4 linked regions of the Homo sapiens genome follow. The protein of the gene in region 1 purifies or fractionates together with the protein of each later gene. This does not show direct contact. Each region holds a gene or a part of one and is shown in the gene's direction. Other genes may lie near its edges.

Region 1 (4,482 bases):
AAGCTGCTTTGTTTGCTTTTGTGTGTCGGATTGAACTTTTCTTTCATGAATCACGGTTAGGAAAGGCTTCTCTTGTTTTCTGCTAATAAAAAGACAGCTTGGGCCAGGCGTGGTGGCTCACACTGTAATCCCAGCACTTTGGGAGGCCGAGGCAGGCGGATCACCTGAGGCCAGGAGTTCGAGACCAGCCTGACCAACGTGGGGAAACCCTGTTTCCACTAAAAATACAAAATTAGCTGGCATGGTGGCATGCACCTGTAATCCCAGCTATTTGGGAAACTGAGGCAGGAGAATCACTTGAGCCCAGGAGGCAGAGGGTCACTGAGCCGAGATCATCCCATTGCACTCCAGCCTGGACTAAAAGAGTGAAACTATGTCTCAAAGGAAAAAAAAAAAAGCCAGCTTGTTCACAGGAAGGGGAGTAATAAGAGAAAACTCTGGGCCCCAGGTCCCAGCATCTTGCTAGGTGGTGAAGCTGGAATTACTCACCTGGTGTCCTTCTCTGCCAGCCCCGCTGCAGGCTGATCTGAGAAAGCCTCTGGCCCAGGGCAGATACCGCCATGGCCTTCCTGATGCACCTGCTGGTCTGCGTCTTCGGAATGGGCTCCTGGGTGACCATCAATGGGCTCTGGGTAGAGCTGCCCCTGCTGGTGATGGAGCTGCCCGAGGGCTGGTACCTGCCCTCCTACCTCACGGTGGTCATCCAGCTGGCCAACATCGGGCCCCTCCTGGTCACCCTGCTCCATCACTTCCGGCCCAGCTGCCTTTCCGAAGTGCCCATCATCTTCACCCTGCTGGGCGTGGGAACCGTCACCTGCATCATCTTTGCCTTCCTCTGGAATATGACCTCCTGGGTGCTGGACGGCCACCACAGCATCGCCTTCTTGGTCCTCACCTTCTTCCTGGCCCTGGTGGACTGCACCTCTTCAGTGACCTTCCTGCCGTTCATGAGCCGGCTGCCCACCTACTACCTCACCACCTTCTTTGTGGGTGAAGGACTCAGCGGCCTCTTGCCCGCCCTGGTGGCTCTTGCCCAGGGCTCCGGTCTCACTACCTGCGTCAATGTCACTGAGATATCAGACAGCGTACCAAGCCCTGTACCCACGAGGGAGACTGACATCGCACAGGTACCCAGCATCACCCGGAGCCATCTCAGCACTTGGCTTTATCACAAATGTAGGGGAGGGAAAAACTGCTCACCTCCATCCTTCTAGGTTCTTTGGTCGGCCTATGAGTTAAACTGACATAAGGCAGATCAACAGCAGGAAACTCATTTTAATTACTTACATACATACGCATGGGAGTCCCCAAAAAATATGAGACTCAAAAAAGGGCCAGATGATTTCAGCTTCTATAGCATCCTGAGCTACAAAAGGGAATAGGGGCTTGAGGCTACTGCAGGATGGTGGAGACAAATTATGGGAGAGTGAAGGGAGGAAACTTATGGTGAATAAACATTGCACTGTTATGCAGATAAAAGTTCCTCGGGTGATAAAGGCCATCACCTTTCTCTTCCTGGTTCAGATACCCCTTCGTGGTACAGATACCTTTTCTTGGTACAGATAAGATAGCTTTACTAATAAAAATTTCCTTTAGATGTAAATTTATCTTACAAAATGGCAACTTTTCAGAGCTACTCCTTAGCCTGCAATTTTTCAAAATAACCAGCTAGAAATAAAAAATATGCCAATAGGTCAATTTTGGGGTGGCATATTCTGGCCTCCTACAGTCATATTTTGGGATGGCATGTCCTGAAGGCCCTTATTTCCTAGACGATGGGTGGAGCAGTGTTCTTCCTTAGGTGGGGGCTCTCCCCTTAGGTGGGGGATTCTCCCCTTAGGTGGGGGCTCTCCCCTTAGGTGGGGGATTCTCCCCTTAGGTGGGGGCTCTCCTCTTAGGTGGGCGGCTCCACTGCTCAGTCTCCAGCTAGCTCCTCCTCTGAACATGTTTGTGGTTGCCACTGCTGTGGGGTGATAAAAGGTGTAGCTTCCAAGTCAGAAAGCACCAGGTGGAGTCTGGCTTTGCCACATTCTCCCTGTGACCCTCAGGTAAGGGACGAAGCATTCTGATACCTCAGTTCCCTCTAAAATGGGGGATGATGGTGCCCACTGTGCAGCCCTGTTAGGAGGCATAGGGGCTTATCCATGCACAGTGCCCGTGCTCAGTGGGCAGTCAGTATGAGCAGTCATTATTGCCACCTTGTTAGTTATGTTTATTTATTCATTATCCATTAATAATAACAGGTGATCTGTATTCTGTTATCACTGTCATGATTGTTGTTCTGCAGCCTGATCCCCTCCCCTGACCAGGGATCTGTCTTGTCCTTTGCAGGGAGTTCCCAGAGCTTTGGTGTCCGCCCTCCCCGGAATGGAAGCACCCTTGTCCCACCTGGAGAGCCGCTACCTTCCCGCCCACTTCTCACCCCTGGTCTTCTTCCTCCTCCTATCCATCATGATGGCCTGCTGCCTCGTGGCGTTCTTTGTCCTCCAGCGTCAACCCAGGTGCTGGGAGGCTTCCGTGGAAGACCTCCTCAATGACCAGGTCACCCTCCACTCCATCCGGCCGCGGGAAGAGAATGACTTGGGCCCTGCAGGCACGGTGGACAGCAGCCAGGGCCAGGGGTATCTAGAGGAGAAAGCAGCCCCCTGCTGCCCGGCGCACCTGGCCTTCATCTATACCCTGGTGGCCTTCGTCAACGCGCTCACCAACGGCATGCTGCCCTCTGTGCAGACCTACTCCTGCCTGTCCTATGGGCCAGTTGCCTACCACCTGGCTGCCACCCTCAGCATTGTGGCCAACCCTCTTGCCTCGTTGGTCTCCATGTTCCTGCCTAACAGGTGTGCCCTCATCTGGTCCTAGGGAATCCTAGTGGGGGAACACTTCATTTCAGAACCCAGAATTCCAAACGCACCTACTGGGCTGTACATGTAGTGGTTAAGAACATGTTTGGGGAGCACCCTGGTCCAAATCCCAGCTCTGCCACCTGTCAGCTGTGTGTAAGACAAGTCACTTCAGTTCTCTGTGCCTCAGGGATATTTATCGGAAAATGGGAGTGTAACATTCCACCTCCTAGGACTGCTGGAAGCATGATATGAGCTGATTCTATAAAGCTCTTGGAGCGGTGCCTGGCACGTGGCAGGTCCAGCCTAAGCGTTGACCATCATTGTCATCAGTCCATGAGGAGGAGCAGATAGCCACTGAGGTTCCCGTTTATAAGGGGAAACCCTGAGGCTTGGAGAAAGAGCTTGACCTGGTCTAATTCCCAGGATTTCGGCCCTGCCTTCCTGCCTCTAACCTCCTGCTGGTTCCCTTAGAGCCACAGTTCTAGAAGAATGGCTGGGCAAGTTGATAAAATGCAGATTGAACCAGCCTAGACTGGGACCTGGGATTTCAATTTTTAGTAAGGAAACCAGACGGTTCTGAGGCAGGGGCTTCAGACCCCTGTAGGAGAACTACCACCTTGGGATCTTGACATTTGAGGTGGGTCCTACAGCCTCGTATCCACGCTGGCCTGCCTGTCCTCACTGGCCTGCTTACACCCACTCTCCCAGCCCAGAAGAAGGACAGTGAGGACAGAAGAGCTTGACAGAAAGCTTGCCAGGAAGCTGGATTTTCTACCTTGGGACCTAGAAACTGGAAAGAGGATGGAGGATTTGAGGGAAGCAGGACCAAAGGCTCAGACCTGCAAATCCAAGAAACCCCAAATGTTAGAATTACAGAATCTGAGTCATGGAATCCAAGAATCTTGGAGCAGAAAGAGTCTTTAAGGGTATAGGCAGACCTCTGTCTGTTCTTACCCAGGGCGTGGACCAGTCTTGGGGTTCTAGAGATTGGGACCCCAGGGACAAGGACCTGTGAGGAAGGACAGTGGTCCCAGATGTAGGTTTGCATGGAAGGCCACCTGTAGAGAGATGCTCCTAGCAGCAACAAGCCAGCTGCCAGGACCCCTGGAGATCAGCACACTCCACATTGCAGAGGCAGGTAGCTGAGGCCAGAAGGGGAGGGGTCTCCTGAGGAGGCACAGCAAACCCTACTGTGCCAATGCCCGATCCAGCCATCTTCACTTCAACTCAGCTTCCTGGCTGAGGCTGAGGGTGTGTTGCAGGAGGAAATGCCAGCAGGTAAACACCAGGTGGGCCCACAGCGGCGCCAGGCCTGCATGCTCTGCTCCTGGAGGTCATGCAGCCTTGCAAAACTCCGATTTGGAGGCTCAGAGGCGAGTCTCAGCTTAAACAGTAGAACTGGGATTTGAACCAGGACCATCCGGTGCCAGAGTCCATTATGTTTTTCTTGCCGGGGTGCCAGGCCCTGCCGTTAATGCTGGGGATGACTCAGGCCAGCCCTGCCTGCTCAGGAGCCTCCCTGACCCACTTGAGCCAGGCAACCTGGAATTTTCCACATGGGTCTAAACTAACTATGGAGACACTGGCCATCCACATGCCGCCCAGTGGGGCGGGGGGGTCAGAGGTCAGGCTTCTCACC
Region 2 (5,022 bases), on another chromosome or scaffold:
GTTCATTAATTTATTTTCCAAAATTTGATTTCTCTAGCCTGTGACTGGCCAATCAACATGATTGGTTTACTTATATGAAAAAAACAACAGTTGGCTTAGGCTTATGATTTTAGTATTTTAAAACATTTTTGCTAACACAGTAATGAGTCCAAAAGCATTTCTTTATCCTTTTTACATAGCAAATCCTTCTCTTTGACATCAGGGTGAAGGTAATTATATTTTTCACTAGGGAGTAAATAAGAACTAGTTTTATGGTAAACATTTTTGGTGAAGAATGACTGTTCTTGATGTTCAGGTTACCTGTTACTGGGTAACACGCAGAAATTTAAAAAATGTATTGCCTTTGTTCTTTATTCTTTTTTGTTCTTACAGCCTTTAAGACCTATATGAAAATGTTGTATTTCTAACTGTTAATCACTTGACTAAAAAATAGTATAGTACCATCCTGTATAAGCTGTATCTTTTCAATTTCAAGTCCCTCCTTCATTGTACATATATTTTAAAGATGTAGGTGTACATGGGATTTATGTTTTTAGTAGTACTTTGAAATTTTAAATCTCTGAAATTACTATAAATTTTAAAAAATTACTATAAAATTTAAAATATGAAATTACTATAAATACTGAAATTACTATAAATGGTTTATTTATTAATTGGAAATACTTCCTGAGAAAATACTTAAAAGGCTATAAAAAACAGACTTAGATAATCTTTATTTGATATGCTTACTAAATGATAACATTATTTACAATTTGTAAGCATTTTTTATTTTTGCCACAGCCTAGGATTTTTAAGCTTATATAGAAATTACCAACAAATAATTGGAAATCTTTACTTATAAAGTTACAAATACTTTTAGTTAGTATTAGATTTGAGAGCAAGTCTGCATTTAGTGGAATCATTTTTAGTTACATCAGATTCAGTTTGCAGACCAGTGGAAACAGGGTGGGTAAACACAAGCTAATTTTTAACAGTTTTAGAGTAGGTTATATTAAACACTTTTTAAAAAGTAATCATTTGAGGCATTGTTTTAGGTGCTAAAGTTATCTGAAGTAACTGAAGAAAATTAGATTGATTTTTTAAAAAACCTTTTAAAATTAATGAAGTGTGATGTCTAGAGTCTAATCAAGGAAAGGATAACTGTGTCCAATATCATCAAATTCTGCCTTCCATCTGCCTGTTCATATTCCCACACCACGGAGAATATAAAACTGTCTACCATGGCCACTAATAGGAACTGTTGAAATGCCACTTTAAGGTTCATTTAGCTGTTCTCAGCTCTCTGTTGGGAACTGAATGCTAGAGCATCTAGTTTGAAAATAAAAAGACTCTAATGGGGGTCTTTATGCACCTAGTATTTTTGGCAGTGATTAACAGTAGGGGGTGTACAGAAGGTCAAAAGCTCTTCTTTTGGAGGTCAGCAGAACACCCCCATCTGATAAGATTAAACTAATGTGGCTTTTGGTGTTAATATCTGAAGCAGCGGGTTGCTGTAGTGTGTTTGGGATGGTAGTTGTGGTTTTGAGAGATTATGAAAAAAGGACTGACGTGAAATTTCTAATAAGAAAATGTGTGATTCAGACATACAGCATTTACTGTTTCTTGCGGGGAGTTTGAAACTGGTTTTTGTTTCTAAAAATACTCCAATTTTTTTTTTGCTATTGCATAAGATGATTTTTTCTCAAATAATTTATATATGTGTATGCTGTGTATGCCATTAAGTGTTTTTATTTTTCCTTTGTGCCATTTTTAAGTGTTAAAGATTATTTGAAGTAAATCATTATGAAACTGAAGATAATTTATGATTTTCAAATTCAGGTGTATGAATTCGGTTAATATATTTATGTTCACTCCATAGTTTTCTGATTATTTTACTGGATATTTCAATGGACAGTATTGGCTTTGGTGGATATTTCTTGTACTTGGTAAGTTTATTCTTAATGCATTTAGTTTAACTTGGATATTTCCAAAAACTGTAAGATGTAAATAAACTGTGTTGCAATTTATGTGGAAATTATTTTTCTTCTGTAAAATTCTCATATTCAAACACATCATCTCACGTTTTTAAACTATTCTATATAGCACTACAGATTTCTTAGATTTAAAATCCAGAGGCTATCAGTGTAAAGAGTCAGTGGCGGGATGATAATTGAATGCTAAAAAATTTTAAAATAACAACGTGATAAAAAATTGTCTTTAGCATTTATCTCAGAAAACATACACAAATGACTTCTTTTAATGATCTTAGGAAATTTGAGAGTTGGATAGTTTGGTTGTTCTATCTGTTCTCTTATTTTTTGATCATGGAAACATTCTTTATGCTTTTGAAATGTGCCTTGAATTAATCATTAATCAGCCAGGCATAAGGAAAGGCTTTATGCCTAATGATCACAGTGCTTCTGTTGAGTTGTCTTCCTATAAGACGTGTCTTTTTATTAATATTGATGGAATTTTATGGATTTTCAATTTTTGTTCCCTTTTGTTTTTTACCTTCAATGTGAGATAATTAAGTTAATCATTAAATCACATTATATCTTTAATCCACATTTCAGATGTATTTGCTGACATAAGGAATACCTTTTGTTTCTAGTTAAGAGTAAAAGCCCATGTTTCACTCAGAATTTTACCAGAAAATAACAGCATTTCAGTAGGTGGCAGTCTTCTCTCTGAGTTTTTATTTAGTCATACTGTTGGATCTTTAGGATCTTTTGGGAAACAAATTATTGTTAGTCAGATAAGGTCACTTAATTCTTTAATAGCTATATTGAAATTATTTTAGTGTTGTGACTTTGTTGAGATGCATCTGGAGGTGAAGCCAGTTTTATATTATGTGTTCTAACTGCCTGAATGCCGTGTTCTTTATTGAGTTTCTTACCTAAAAGTGAGAAGGTTTATAAAGTCTATTAAGTATTTAAGCATATTAAATGAGTACATTTGTGTGTATATATATATTATTTAGAGATTGGAGGAATCTTAAGGAGGTTAGTGTGGGGCAGAGTAGAATACAGAGGACAATGCCAGTTCCACTTCAGAGCCATAATCTAGTGTTTATTTATTTAGGGGAATGTGAAAATGTAATCAGTGATAAAAATGTTGCTCTCACATATGCTGAAAAGAATGTTGAGCACTTTGTAGAATGCTGAGAAACAGTAGCCACTGAGCGATTGGTTTTTAGGTATGAACTGGGTGGCTTCTTTTAGAAAATGCCTGAGAAGTAAAATGTGTGTTAGAAAACAGCAGCTTTAGAGACAAAGGAAGGGATCCCACAAATAAGTTGGTTTACATTTTTCAATAATATTTTTACATTTGGATAACAGTATTATTATCTTTGAACAGCATCTGGAAGGGCATGAGGGTGGAATTCAGAAGGAGTCCCAAAAGGAGGGAGTTAGGATATGGGAAGCAGATGCGATTGGGTTTAGCTGTAATTTATACCATTTAAGTCATCATTTGTATCTCTCTTCTGTCTTTCCTCTCCAATTTACTACACACATGCTTCTTGTTTTTAGTGATTTGATTACTGTCTTGCAGTTGGGGTACAAATTTAGTTTGAGACTTCATATTTTAAATTCACAAACTCCTTTTCCTCCTGGTGAGGAAAGTCATACACATACAGTAGATATCTTCTGTTTTTGTTTTTGGATCCCCCCCACCCTGTTTTCCTGGTTAAAAATTTGCTGGAGTTAATAAATGTTTCCCTAAGAATCATATGCTTAAGTATTTCAAAGGCTTATACTAGTAATGGTAATGTTTTATACTTATCTAATATTTTTTATGTGAAACTTTAGAGAATTTTACAGGTATTGCTTTTTAAATTATTAAATATATTTGTGGTTGTTATTTTAAAATACTACTTTACAAAGGAGAAAACTGAGGTAGATATAAGATGTATCCCAAATAATCTAAATCATTAGAGTGACTGTCTTCCAAGTTGTCTTTTCTAACTCATCTTAATTTTTTATTATAAGTTAGTTTTTTATTATTACTTCAAAATAAGAACTCATAATTAAAAATATGTACATAATGCACGTATCTTCAAATACAGATTTCACAGATGACAGGCACTTGATATTACTATACAGGCTTATTGTTTTTTTCCTCATAATTGTTAGTAACCTCATGTATATATTTCCTTTTTATCTACTTTATATAAATAAATATGTCTTAGTTCACCCAGTAGTTATATTAATTGAAAAGATTGAGCCCATGGGTTCAATGGGGTTTTTATGAGTTGAATCAGTTTAAGTGCGTCAGGTAACTTTACTATTGAAGAAAATCACTTAAATGTATATTTTTATGTAATTCTGGATTTTTATAGCTAGATTTGCTTTAATTTTGGTACATCTAGGCTTAACAAATTGAAAAATTGTATTTCCTTGTGACAGAGTTTATCCTTATAGTGTAAAATATATTACAGAAATGAATGGAAGTCTGCAAGTAAAATTCCTTAAGCCAAGAGGATCTTGTTTATAATTGTCTACTTTAAATTTATCTTGCCCTTTTCTGTATAAAAACATAGTATATCCATATTATTTCAACCTTCTCAGGCCTGCTCCTTTTCTTCAGAGGATTTGTTAATTATCTAAAAGTCAGAAACATGTCTGAAAGTATGGCAGCTGCTCATAGAACAAGGTATTTCTTCTTATTGTAGAGGTAAGAAATATTAATCTGTGAACTCTGCCTATTCCCTTTATGTATTCAAATTTGCCAGATACATATTAAATGCCTAATGTGTATTCATGATTTTTACTGTTAGCATATTTAATATTTTTTAATACTGCTAACAGTCAGCTTATTGAAATTTGATAAGTCATAGACCTTTTTAGATAACTTTTAGATTTTTAAAATTGAATTTCATAAATTTTAATTTTTAAAATACATAGCGAGTGAACTGAAATTTTGAATCAGACTTTTAAAACTTCTCTTTAAAGATTAACCATAGAATGTATATGAAGTAACCACCAGCACAAAATTTGAAGGCTTGAAAAAACAAAATATGACATAGTACTTAGACCGAAGGAA
Region 3 (5,746 bases), on another chromosome or scaffold:
CCCAGCACTAAATGTATATTCCTGCTGAGGATACCTCCACACCACCTGTATAATGCCATGTTAACCAAATAATTGGCTGCACTATAAATATCTATAAATATTCAAGTAGAGGCAGGTTGTGGCGTGGTGACTCGTGCCTGCAATCCCAGCACTTTGGGAGGTTGAGGTGGGAGGATTGCTTAAGGCCAGGAGTTTGAGCCCAGCCTGGGTAACACAGTGAGATCCTGTCTCTATTTTTATTGTATTGTATTTTTTTTTTTTTTTGAGGCGGAGTCTCGCTCTGTCGCCCAGGCTGGAGTACAGTGGCATAATCTCGGCTCACTGCAACCTCTACCTCCCAGGTTCAAACGATTCTCCTACTTCAGCCTCCCCAGTAGCTGGGATTACAGGTGCCCACCACCACACCTGGCTAATTTTTGTATTTTTAGTACAGACAGGGTTTTGCCTTGTTGGCCAGGCTGGTCTTGAACTCCTGACCTCAGTGATCTGCCCGCCTCGGCCTCCCACAGTGCTGGGATTACAGGCATGAACCACCACACCCGGCTAATTTTTGATTTATTGATTGATTGATTTTTTGAGACACTCGCTCTGTCACCCAGGCTGGAGTGCAGTGGCACGATCTCGGCTCATTGCAACCTCCGCCTCTCGGGTTGAAGTGATTCTCCTGCCTCAGCCTCCCAAGTAGCTGGGACTACAGGTGCACACCACAACATCCAGCTAATTTTTGTATTTTTAGTACAGACGGGGTTTCACCAAGTTGGCCAGGATGGTCTCGATCTCTTGACCTCATGATCCGCCCACCTCGGCCTCCCAAAGTGCTGGGATTATAGGTGTTAGCCACCACACCCAGCCTATTTTCTTTTTTCTTTTTCTTTTTGGAGACAGAGTCTCACTCTGTCCCCCAGGTTGGAGTGCAGTGAGGCAATCTTGGCTCACTGCAACCTCCACCTCCTGGGTTTAAGCGATTCTCCTGCCTCAGCTTCCCAAGTAGCTGGGATTACAGGCATGTGCCACCACACTGGCTAATGTTTGTATTTTTAGTAGAGAAGGGGTTTCACCATGTTGGCCAGGCTGGCTTAGAAATCCTGATCGACCTGCCTCAGCCTCCCAGAGTGCTGGGATTACAGGCATGAGCCACTGCACCTGGCCTATGCCTGCTCTTTGAGGTCAGTTTTGGTTTCATACTTTAGCCTCATTTTGCAGTTGAGGAAACTGAGGCTTAAGGAAGATAAGCCCTTTGTTAAGTATCCTCTAGTTCAGAGGGTGCAGAAGGAGCATTTGAATTCAGGGCGACCCAGGAGGATGTGGGCTCCACAAGGGTGGAGATTGGGTCTCTCTGGTTCCTCACTGTATGCGGTGCCCCGCCCAAGGCCTGCACCCACTAAGGGCTGAATAAATACTTGTTCTAAGACCAGGCCCAGTAGTGCACGCAGGTAATCCCAGCACTTTGGGGGGCCACGGTGGGAGGAGCCCACGAGTCCAGGAGTTAAAGATGAGCCTGGGCAACATAGCAACATCCCATCTCTACAAAAAAAATTAAAAATTAGCCGAGTGCAGTAGAGCACCTGTAGTCCCAGCTACTCAGGAGGCTTAGTCAGGAGGATGGCTTGAGGCAGGGAGGTCGAGACTGCGATGAGCTGTGATTGCACCACTGCACTCCAGCCTGGGCAACAGAGGGAGATCCTGTCTCAAAAAAAAAAAGCAGCAGACAGAAAGAAAACTAATTTCCTGCACAGCTTGGAGAAGTTTTCAGCACCAACATTCCACAGTTGGTTGTCTGGGTTTGGGCAGTAGGCCGTTTTCCCTCCCAGTGCCTCAGTTTCCACACCTGCAAAACGAAGCCACGGAAACGCCCTTTCAGGGTGGCCAGGGGTTCTAGGCGGCATCGCCCGGTGGCAGGGTGTTCCCAGGGTGAAGCCGCAGGGTTCCCGGGTGGGGGCGGGGAAGGCTAAATGCGGCCGGCCGGTGAGTGGCGGGAGCAGCTGCAGCCCCGCCCGCGCCCTCCCGGGTCCCTTAGTCTGGGCAGCTGCCCAGCTCGGGCCGGTCTGACCGGTTTGGGCCGCCCCGCCTGGCGCTGTGCTGGGAGGAGCCGCCGCCAGTCGCGCGGTCAGTGCCTCCCTCCAGACTCGGGAGGGTCGAGGGGGCGCGGGAGAGAGCGCGGGCGGCCGCCGGGGCTGGTCGCCTGCAGGGATGGGGGACGAGCGGCCCCACTACTACGGGAAACACGGTAGGCAGCGACCCCCGCCCGTAGCCCCGGGCCGACCCCTCGGTCCCTCGGAGGGGGCCTTGAGAGAACATGGGGCGCAGGGAAGGGGGCTGGAGGGGGAGCGCAATTGCAAATCTGCGCCTGGAGCCTCCCCACCATCAGCCAGGCCCCTTCACCCCACTTATCCCCCGCAGCCTCGCAGACGACCCTCCTTACTCTCCCCTACCCGAAGGACCTGCCCCTGTACCCCTCTGCCTGGCACTGCTGCCGGCGCCTCCTTCCCCCTATCCCACCTCAGATCTTCCCCATCTCCACCTGGTTCCGTGGTGGTCACCATTTCAGCCCTCTTCCCAGTGGGTGGCCGCCAGTTAATAAGTTTGTTCACAGTTAGTGATCCCTCCTTCCTCCCCTGTCCTGGCCTGCCAGAACTGGGGGCTTGGGTGTGGTCACCTGGAGGTGGGTGAGGCAGAAAATTCCACAGGTCTCTGAATTTTATTCTTGCCAAGGCAAAGACACCCCTAGGGGCTTTTGGGAGGGGGCTCTCCCAGCCCTGTCTTGGTTCAGGTCTCCAATCCCATCCATCTTAATCTTCTTGACTTTCAGGAACGCCACAGAAGTATGATCCCACTTTCAAAGGACCCATTTACAATAGGTAAGAGCTCTGGGTTTTGGGGGGTTCTCCCCGCTAATACTACCCCAATCCCTGTCTCTTCACACCCCCTCCCATCTGTTCTCCAACAAACTGGTGACAAATATTTGAAACTTTTTTTTTTTTTTGAGATGGAGTCTTGCTCTGTCACCAGGCTGGAGTGCCGTGGCGCGATCTCAATCTCGGCTCACTGCAACCTTCGCCTCCCGGGTTCGAGCAATTCTCCCACCTCAGTCTCCCAAGTAGCTGGGATTACAGGCTTGCACCACCACACCTGGCTAATTTTTTTTTTTTTTTGTACTTTTAGCAGAGATGTTTCGCTGTGTTGCCCATGCTGGTCTCGACCTCGTGAGCTCAAAGCGATCCACCTGCCTTGGCCTCCCAAAGTGCTGGGATTACAGGTGTGAGTTACCACACCTGGCCTGGACTTAATTTTTACCATGTTTATATTTATTTATTTATTTATTTATTTTTGAGATGGAGTCTCACTCTGTCACCCAGGCTGGAGTGGTGCAATCTCAGCTCACTGCAACCTTCCCCTCCTGGTTCAAGCACGTCTTCTGTCTCAGCCTCTCCAGTAGCTGTGACTACTCAGAGGCTACTCAGAAGGCTGAGGCAGGAGAATTGCTTGAATCTGGGAGGTGGAGGTTGCAGTAAGCTGAGATTGCGCCACTGCACTCCAGCCTGGAGGACAAGAGCGAGACTCTGTCTCAAAAAAAAATAACAAAAAAATAAAATACAGCCAGGCACGGTGGCTCACACCTATAATCCCAGCACTTTGGGAGGCCAAGGCAGGTGGATCACTTGAGGTTAGGAGTTCGAGACCAGCCTGGCTAACATGGTGAAACCCTGTCTCTACTAAAAATACAAGAATTAGCTGGGCATGGTGGCGGGCACCTATAATCCCAGCTACTTGGGAGACTGAGGCAGGAGAATCGCTTGAACCTGGGAGGTAGAGGTTGCAGTAAGCTGAGATCGTTCCACTGCACTCCAGCCTGGGCGACAGAGTGAGATTCCCTCTCAAAAAAAAAAAAAAAGTCTAGCTTGGGCAACATAGCGAGACCTTGTCTCTACAGAATGTATATAAATTAAAAAAAAAATGTGTGGTGGTGTGCACCTGTAGTCTCAACTACTTGGGAAGCTGAGGCAGGAGGATCACTTGAGCCCAGGAGTTCGAGGCTGTAGTGAGCTATGATCATGCCACTGTACTCCAGCCTGGATGACGGAGTGAGACTCTGTTGCACAAAATTAAAAAATGAAATGAAATAAAAATTAAAATGCATGTGCCCTTTGGTACGGCATTCAAACGACTCAGGAAAATTTGTCCAAATAACACATGGATGAGGGTGTTTGCAGAGGGCAGATGGGCCCATGGTGCACACAGCACCAAGCCTCCTCCAAACACTGCCCCTCTGCTCCCCAGGGGCTGCACGGATATCATATGCTGTGTGTTCCTGCTCCTGGCCATTGTGGGCTACGTGGCTGTAGGCATCATAGGTGAGTAGAGAATGAGCAGGACTTGGAGTTGCAGGGTAGGCGGAGGCAGCCATGGCCTCTGGAGTGGGAACAGGGCTGGATCTGAGGAGTGGCAGTGTCTCAGTATCCCTGGATCTTTCCACAGCCTGGACTCATGGAGACCCTCGAAAGGTGATCTACCCCACTGACAGCCGGGGCGAGTTCTGCGGGCAGAAGGGCACAAAAAACGAGTGAGTTGACTCCTTGCGGCCTGGTGGGGCTGGGGAAGAGGGGGCAGAAGATTCTAGGCATTCCCCATCTCTCTAAGTCCAGTTAACAAGTGCTTATAGGCTGGGCGCGGTGACTCACGCCCGAAATTCCAACACTTTGGGAGGCCGAGGCAGGAATATTGCTTTAGGCTAGGAGTTCGAGACCAGCCTGGCCAACATGGCAAAACCCCGTCTCCACTAAAAATACACAAATTAGCCAGGCATGGTGGCACATGCCTGTAATCCCAGCTACTCAGGAGGCTGAGGCAGGAGAATCACTTGAACCACAGGAGGCAGAAGTTGCAATGAGCCGAGATCGTGCCACTGCACTTTAGCCTGGGGCACAGAGTGAGACTCTGTCTCAAAACAAACAAGCAAAAATTAAGTGGACGTGGTGGGGCACACCTCTAGTCCCAGCTACCCAGCAGGCTGAGGTGGGAGGATAGCTTGAGCTGGGAGGCCAAGGCTGCAGTAAGGTATGATTGTACCATTGCACTCCAGCCTGGACGACAGAGCGAGACCTGGTCTCAACAAAACAACAAGAAAAGAAAACAAGTACTGATAAACGTCCCACTACCCTCAGCCACTAGTCTAGTCCTTGGGGACACACAGCTCTAAATGAGATAGTAAGCATCCTGTTCTCTGGCAGCACACATTTTAAGGGCGGGAGAGACTGAGAGGGGACAGTCCTGGATTACGCGTCAGGTGGTGATGAACAGGTGAGACAACAGAGCAAGCATAGCCTGAGTGGCGTCACTTCCTGGCTCTGTGACCTAGGGCAGGTGTCTCAATCTCTCTGAACCTCGTTTTCCTCATCTCTAAAATGAGGATCATAACAGTCCCACCCTCATGGGGCTATTTTGATGGTTAGATGTGCCAATACATGTACAGAGCTTAGAATGCCACCTGGCATCGCTGGGCGTGGTGGCTCACACCTGTAATCCCAGCACACTTTGGGAGGCTGAGGTGGGAGGATCAAGACCAGCCTAGTCAACATGGTGAAACCCCGTCTCTACTAAAAATACAAAAAAATTAGCTGGGCATTGTGGCATGTTCCTGTAATCCCGGTTACTCAGGAGGCTGAGGCAGGAGAATTGCTTGAACCTGGGAGGCAGAGGTTGCAATGAGCCGAGATCGTGCCACTGCACTCCAGCCTAGGCAACAGAG
Region 4 (4,865 bases), on another chromosome or scaffold:
GAGGAGCACCAGCTCAGTGTGCTGGTCCTTCATCAGCCTGGTGGCTGGGATGGTCCTTACCTAGGGAGGTGGGACAGAGCTGGGTGGTCAGAAAGAGACTGTGGCTGGTACCTGGGGCCATTTTGCCTGAAGAGAGTCCTGGGCGCCATAAGTGGGTTCTGACTCGTTTCCTCCACAGTGAACTTGCTGACTGAGAAGGCACCTTGGAACTCTCTGGCCTGGACTGTTACCAGTTACGTCTTCCTCAAGTTCCTCCAGGGGGGTGGCACTGGCAGTACAGGTATGAGAGACTCCGCCCTCACCCTGCTAGGTATAGGTCCCTCCCACAGGCATTCCCTCAGCATCCGCCTCTCCCAGCATTCCTCCCCAGCCCCCATGTACTCTCAGACCTTTCACATCCTGGTGCTGGGCTGACGTCCCTCAGCTCCCAGGCCCTACTGAGGCGTCCCCCGGCTCCCTGCAGGCTTCGTGAGCAACCTGCGCACCTTCCTGTGGATCCGGGTGCAGCAGTTCACGTCTCGGCGGGTGGAGCTGCTCATCTTCTCCCACCTGCACGAGCTCTCACTGCGCTGGCACCTGGGGCGCCGCACAGGGGAGGTGCTGCGGATCGCGGATCGGGGCACATCCAGTGTCACAGGGCTGCTCAGGTGCCGCCCCAGTGGAAAGGGCATGTGGGAGGGTGGAGCCGGAGAAGCAGGGATAGGGGCCCGTGGGAGGAAGAGAACAGACCCCGCCTGAGAAGCTGCCGCTCCCACCTTGGTGTTTTTTAAAGTATAGGATTATTGTATACATGCTCTCCTAATAACTTAGGTAATGCGGGCAGAGGGCAAATCTCTTTCGAGCTGCACTTACTTTTTCAGAGCTTCCCACTCTGTTTAGTATGTTGGGTTCTGCTCTTTTTTTGAGACAGGGTCACGCTCTGTCACCCAGGCTGGAGTACAGTGGCATAATCTCTGCTCACTGCAACCTCTGCCTCCCGGGTTCAAGCAATTCTCCTGCCTCAGCCTCCTGAGTAGCTGGGATTACAGATGTGCACCAGCATGCCTGGCTAATTATTAGATTTTTTGTAGAAACAGGGTTTCACCATGTTGGCCAGGCTGGCCTGGAACTCCTAGCATCATGTGATCTGCCCACCTAGCATTCCAAAGTGCTGGGATTACAGTTGTGAGCCATTGTGCCCAGCTGGGTTCTGCTTTTTTGCATTTTTACATACATATTATATATGCAGACTCACAGAACTAATATGGCATTGTGGAGGTTTTTCCTAAAACAAATGGTATTGTGACATAGCCATCATTCTCAGAGTTGCTTATTAACAGAACATTATGGAGATATATTTTTCTTCCATGCCTGAAGGTCTCCCTCATTCATTGTAATTGATACAGAGAATTCTGTAGTTTGAGCATGGTTGATTTAGCCACCCACCTCTTGAGGGTAGAATTAATTAAGACTGGTTCCAGTCTGTTGCTTGAAAATAAAACACTACCCTGAAATGCCTAGAGGCAGGGTTGCTGGGTCTAAGCCCCCAGACCTTTCTTATTCACTTGACCTGCCCTCCTAGCTACCTGGTGTTCAATGTCATCCCCACGCTGGCCGACATCATCATTGGCATCATCTACTTCAGCATGTTCTTCAACGCCTGGTTTGGCCTCATTGTGTTCCTGTGCATGAGTCTTTACCTCAGTGAGTGCTGCTGGGAGACACCGTCTCCCTGAACTATCCAGGGACTCCCTTGGCCATGAGCTGTGCCCCCACTCAAGTGACCCACCTATGGGAGGCTGTGGATTGGTGGACTTGAATGGGCTCCTAGTGCTCGTCATGTGATGGGCGGGTCTCTTCTGTCAAATCAAACCTTAACCTAGCTGAGGGGCTGGGGAAGGACATTCTTGTCACGTTAAGTCTGAGCCGTGGACACAGGTCAAGGAAGCCTCGTTTGTGTAACAAGATGCAGCTTGCTTTCATTTACCAAAAGCGTTTTCTACACATGAGACTTTGTGCAGGCTGCAGAGGTGCCTCCCTGTGGAATCTGGGTGTCCGGGCTTGAGCATAGGCTTAGTGTGTACATGGCAGGTAGTGGACATTGACATTTGGTCTCTGCTTTTGGGGATGATGTCCTATTCTGCTCCCCATCCTGTCACTCTCCAGCCCTGACCATTGTGGTCACTGAGTGGAGAACCAAGTTTCGTCGTGCTATGAACACACAGGAGAACGCTACCCGGGCACGAGCAGTGGACTCTCTGCTAAACTTCGAGACGGTAACAGAGGGCCCGGTGGCAGTGGTGTGAGGCGTGGAGATGTGGAGGAGTGTAACCAGGACCACTGGGGCTGACAGAGAGCTGGGGGTGTGATGTTTGTGTGTGATGTTTGAACTCAGGAAGGAGGATTGAGAGTTGGGGGGAATGACCCGAGTGCCATGTGCTGTGCCCATGCCAAATAAATTTGGTTTGAATTCATCAGGTGAAGTATTACAACGCCGAGAGTTACGAAGTGGAACGCTATCGAGAGGCCATCATCAAATATCAGGTGAGGATGCTAGTTTGAGGCCTCCGGAGAATAATGCCCTGGCCTGGTAGAATTTTCAGGGCCAAGAGTGATAGTCGAGTGTTGGGGTAGAAGGGGCCTGGGCCCAGGTTTGGACTCACTGATGGCCATTGTGTATAGGACATTCCTCTTCCTGTGTTATTGCCCTCAGGGTTTGGAGTGGAAGTCGAGCGCTTCACTGGTTTTACTAAATCAGACCCAGAACCTGGTGATTGGGCTCGGGCTCCTCGCCGGCTCCCTGCTTTGCGCATACTTTGTCACTGAGCAGAAGCTACAGGTGAGGCAGGATCTTGGATGAGAGAGTGGGGCACAAGGAAAAGGGGGCCTGAGGCCTGTGTCTGGTCACCAGGCTCTTCGGTAGGAAGTGGGCAGGGTGACACAAGAAGAGCGGCCTGCAGGCCCCCCGTGACATGCTCTGCTTCCTTGATTGCCACAGGTTGGGGACTATGTGCTCTTTGGCACCTACATTATCCAGCTGTACATGCCCCTCAATTGGTTTGGCACCTACTACAGGTAATCTGAGCCCTGGCCCTCACCTGTCCAGGGCACATTATTATTTCCTGGCTACTCAGAGAAGTCCTAACCAGCACCTTTTTGCAGGATGATCCAGACCAACTTCATTGACATGGAGAACATGTTTGACTTGCTGAAAGAGGAGACAGAAGTGAGCGAAGGGAGAGGAGTAGGGTTTGGGGAGGGAGGAGCTGTGTGGTGTTTCTCGTGCTTGGAAAACACAAAGCTGAGAACCTCAGCACACATGGGTGGTGCCCTTCCAGGTGAAGGACCTTCCTGGAGCAGGGCCCCTTCGCTTTCAGAAGGGCCGTATTGAGTTTGAGAACGTGCACTTCAGCTATGCCGATGGGTGAGGCCTTCCTTTTGCTTCCTTTGCTTTTCCGTTCATTTGCACACTGCCTTCCTGCTTCTCAGTGCTCTGAATCCCTGCTTTTGGAAAAGAGCCTGGGCAGGGGAGGGGCAGGGCCTACTAGCAGCTCTGGTGATGGAAGGTGCCTGCTGAGCAACCCCACCTTTCCTTGCAGGCGGGAGACTCTGCAGGACGTGTCTTTCACTGTGATGCCTGGACAGACACTTGCCCTGGTGAGAGGAGACCCAGCCACTTGGCCCAGATGCCTCAAGCTTCCCTCATTCAGTGCCCATGGTAGCTTGTGACCCAGGCTGTGGAGTCAGAGAGCCCAGTCACGATAGGCAACCGGATTGAATGGTGCAGCCTCCATGGACACTGGTGACCTCTTGGAGAGGGAACCTCAAAAGCCAGTGGGCCTCGGCCGGCTGCGGTGGCACATGCCTGTAATCCCAGCACTTTGGGAGGCTTAGGTGGCCAGATCACCTAAGGTTAGGAGTTCAAGACCAGCCTGACCAACATGGTGAAACCCTATCTCTACTAAAAATACAAAAATTAGCCGGGCATGGTGGCGGGTGCCTATAATCCCACTACTAGGGAGGCTGAGGCAAGAGAATCGCTTGAACCTGGGAGGCAGAGGTTCTAGTGAGCTGAGATCGCGCCATTGCACTGCAGCCTGGGTGACGGAGTGAGATTCGGTCTCAAAAAAAAAGCCAGTGGGCCTGAGATTTTTCCCATTTCCAATGCAACAGGTGGGCCCATCTGGGGCAGGGAAGAGCACAATTTTGCGCCTGCTGTTTCGCTTCTACGACATCAGCTCTGGCTGCATCCGAATAGATGGGCAGGACATTTCACAGGTAGGGTTGCTCTGGAGAAGACGGTGGTTTAGGGGTCTACGTGTGGAGGAATGATAAGGGCTGGCTGTCCAGAGAGAGGAGATGTCACCCTTGCAAAAAAACTAGGGCCATTCTAGCATGATATAACCTACAGTCACACAAGTAAAGTAGTCATGTTAAGGATTTGTATGGTGCCATAAAAGCTACAAAGGGCTGGGCGCAGTGGCTCATGCCTATAATCCCAGCACTTTGGGAGGCCGAGGCAGGTGGATCACTTGAGCCCAGGAGTTCAAGACCAGCCTGGGCAACATGGCAAAACACCCTCTCTACAAAAAATACAAAAATTGCTGGGCGCGGTGGCTCACACCTGTAATCCCAGTACTTTGGGAGGCTGAGGTGGGCGGATCACAAGGTCAGGAGATCGAGACCATCCTGGCTAACACAGTGAAACCCCGTCTCTACGAAAAATACAAAAAATTTGCTGGGCGTGGTGGCGGGCGCCTGTAGTCCCAGCTACTCGGGAAGCTGAGGCAGGAGAATGGTGTGAACCCAGGAGGCGGAGCTTGCAGTGAGCCGAGATGGCGCCACTGCACTCCAGCCTGGGCAAGAGTGCAAGACTCTGTCTCAAA

Evidence for each region. The genes of interacting proteins can lie anywhere in the genome.
Region 2: the proteins of SLC52A3 (region 1) and NDFIP2 purify together in Homo sapiens (affinity purification with mass spectrometry; one large-scale study listed by BioGRID and IntAct). This does not show direct contact.
Region 3: the proteins of SLC52A3 (region 1) and SLC44A2 purify together in Homo sapiens (affinity purification with mass spectrometry; one large-scale study listed by BioGRID and IntAct). This does not show direct contact.
Region 4: the proteins of SLC52A3 (region 1) and ABCB6 purify together in Homo sapiens (affinity purification with mass spectrometry; one large-scale study listed by BioGRID and IntAct). This does not show direct contact.

The regions. Positions count from the first base shown.
Region 1 is NC_000020.11:761,853-766,334, reverse strand, and holds part of SLC52A3 (solute carrier family 52, riboflavin transporter, member 3), read left to right. Parts: exon of another isoform or gene 1-509; 5' UTR 510-560; coding exon 561-1,127; intron 1,128-2,331; coding exon 2,332-2,837; intron 2,838-4,482. UniProt on the Homo sapiens protein: Plasma membrane transporter mediating the uptake by cells of the water soluble vitamin B2/riboflavin that plays a key role in biochemical oxidation-reduction reactions of the carbohydrate, lipid, and amino acid metabolism.
Region 2 is NC_000013.11:79,546,470-79,551,491, forward strand, and holds part of NDFIP2 (NEDD4 family-interacting protein 2), read left to right. Parts: intron 1-1,858; coding exon 1,859-1,925; intron 1,926-4,547; coding exon 4,548-4,651; 3' UTR 4,652-4,653; intron 4,654-5,022. UniProt on the Homo sapiens protein: Activates HECT domain-containing E3 ubiquitin-protein ligases, including ITCH, NEDD4, NEDD4L, SMURF2, WWP1 and WWP2, and consequently modulates the stability of their targets. As a result, may control many cellular processes.
Region 3 is NC_000019.10:10,623,444-10,629,189, forward strand, and holds the start of SLC44A2 (choline transporter-like protein 2), read left to right. Parts: upstream 1-2,109; 5' UTR 2,110-2,190; coding exon 2,191-2,227; intron 2,228-2,809; coding exon 2,810-2,858; intron 2,859-4,278; coding exon 4,279-4,352; intron 4,353-4,476; coding exon 4,477-4,561; intron 4,562-5,746.
Region 4 is NC_000002.12:219,211,779-219,216,643, reverse strand, and holds part of ABCB6 (ATP-binding cassette sub-family B member 6), read left to right. Parts: intron 1-178; coding exon 179-280; intron 281-463; coding exon 464-647; intron 648-1,561; coding exon 1,562-1,683; intron 1,684-2,145; coding exon 2,146-2,255; intron 2,256-2,457; coding exon 2,458-2,523; intron 2,524-2,692; coding exon 2,693-2,818; intron 2,819-2,977; coding exon 2,978-3,054; intron 3,055-3,141; coding exon 3,142-3,205; intron 3,206-3,317; coding exon 3,318-3,403; intron 3,404-3,578; coding exon 3,579-3,636; intron 3,637-4,152; coding exon 4,153-4,257; intron 4,258-4,865. UniProt on the Homo sapiens protein: ATP-dependent transporter that catalyzes the transport of a broad-spectrum of porphyrins from the cytoplasm to the extracellular space through the plasma membrane or into the vesicle lumen.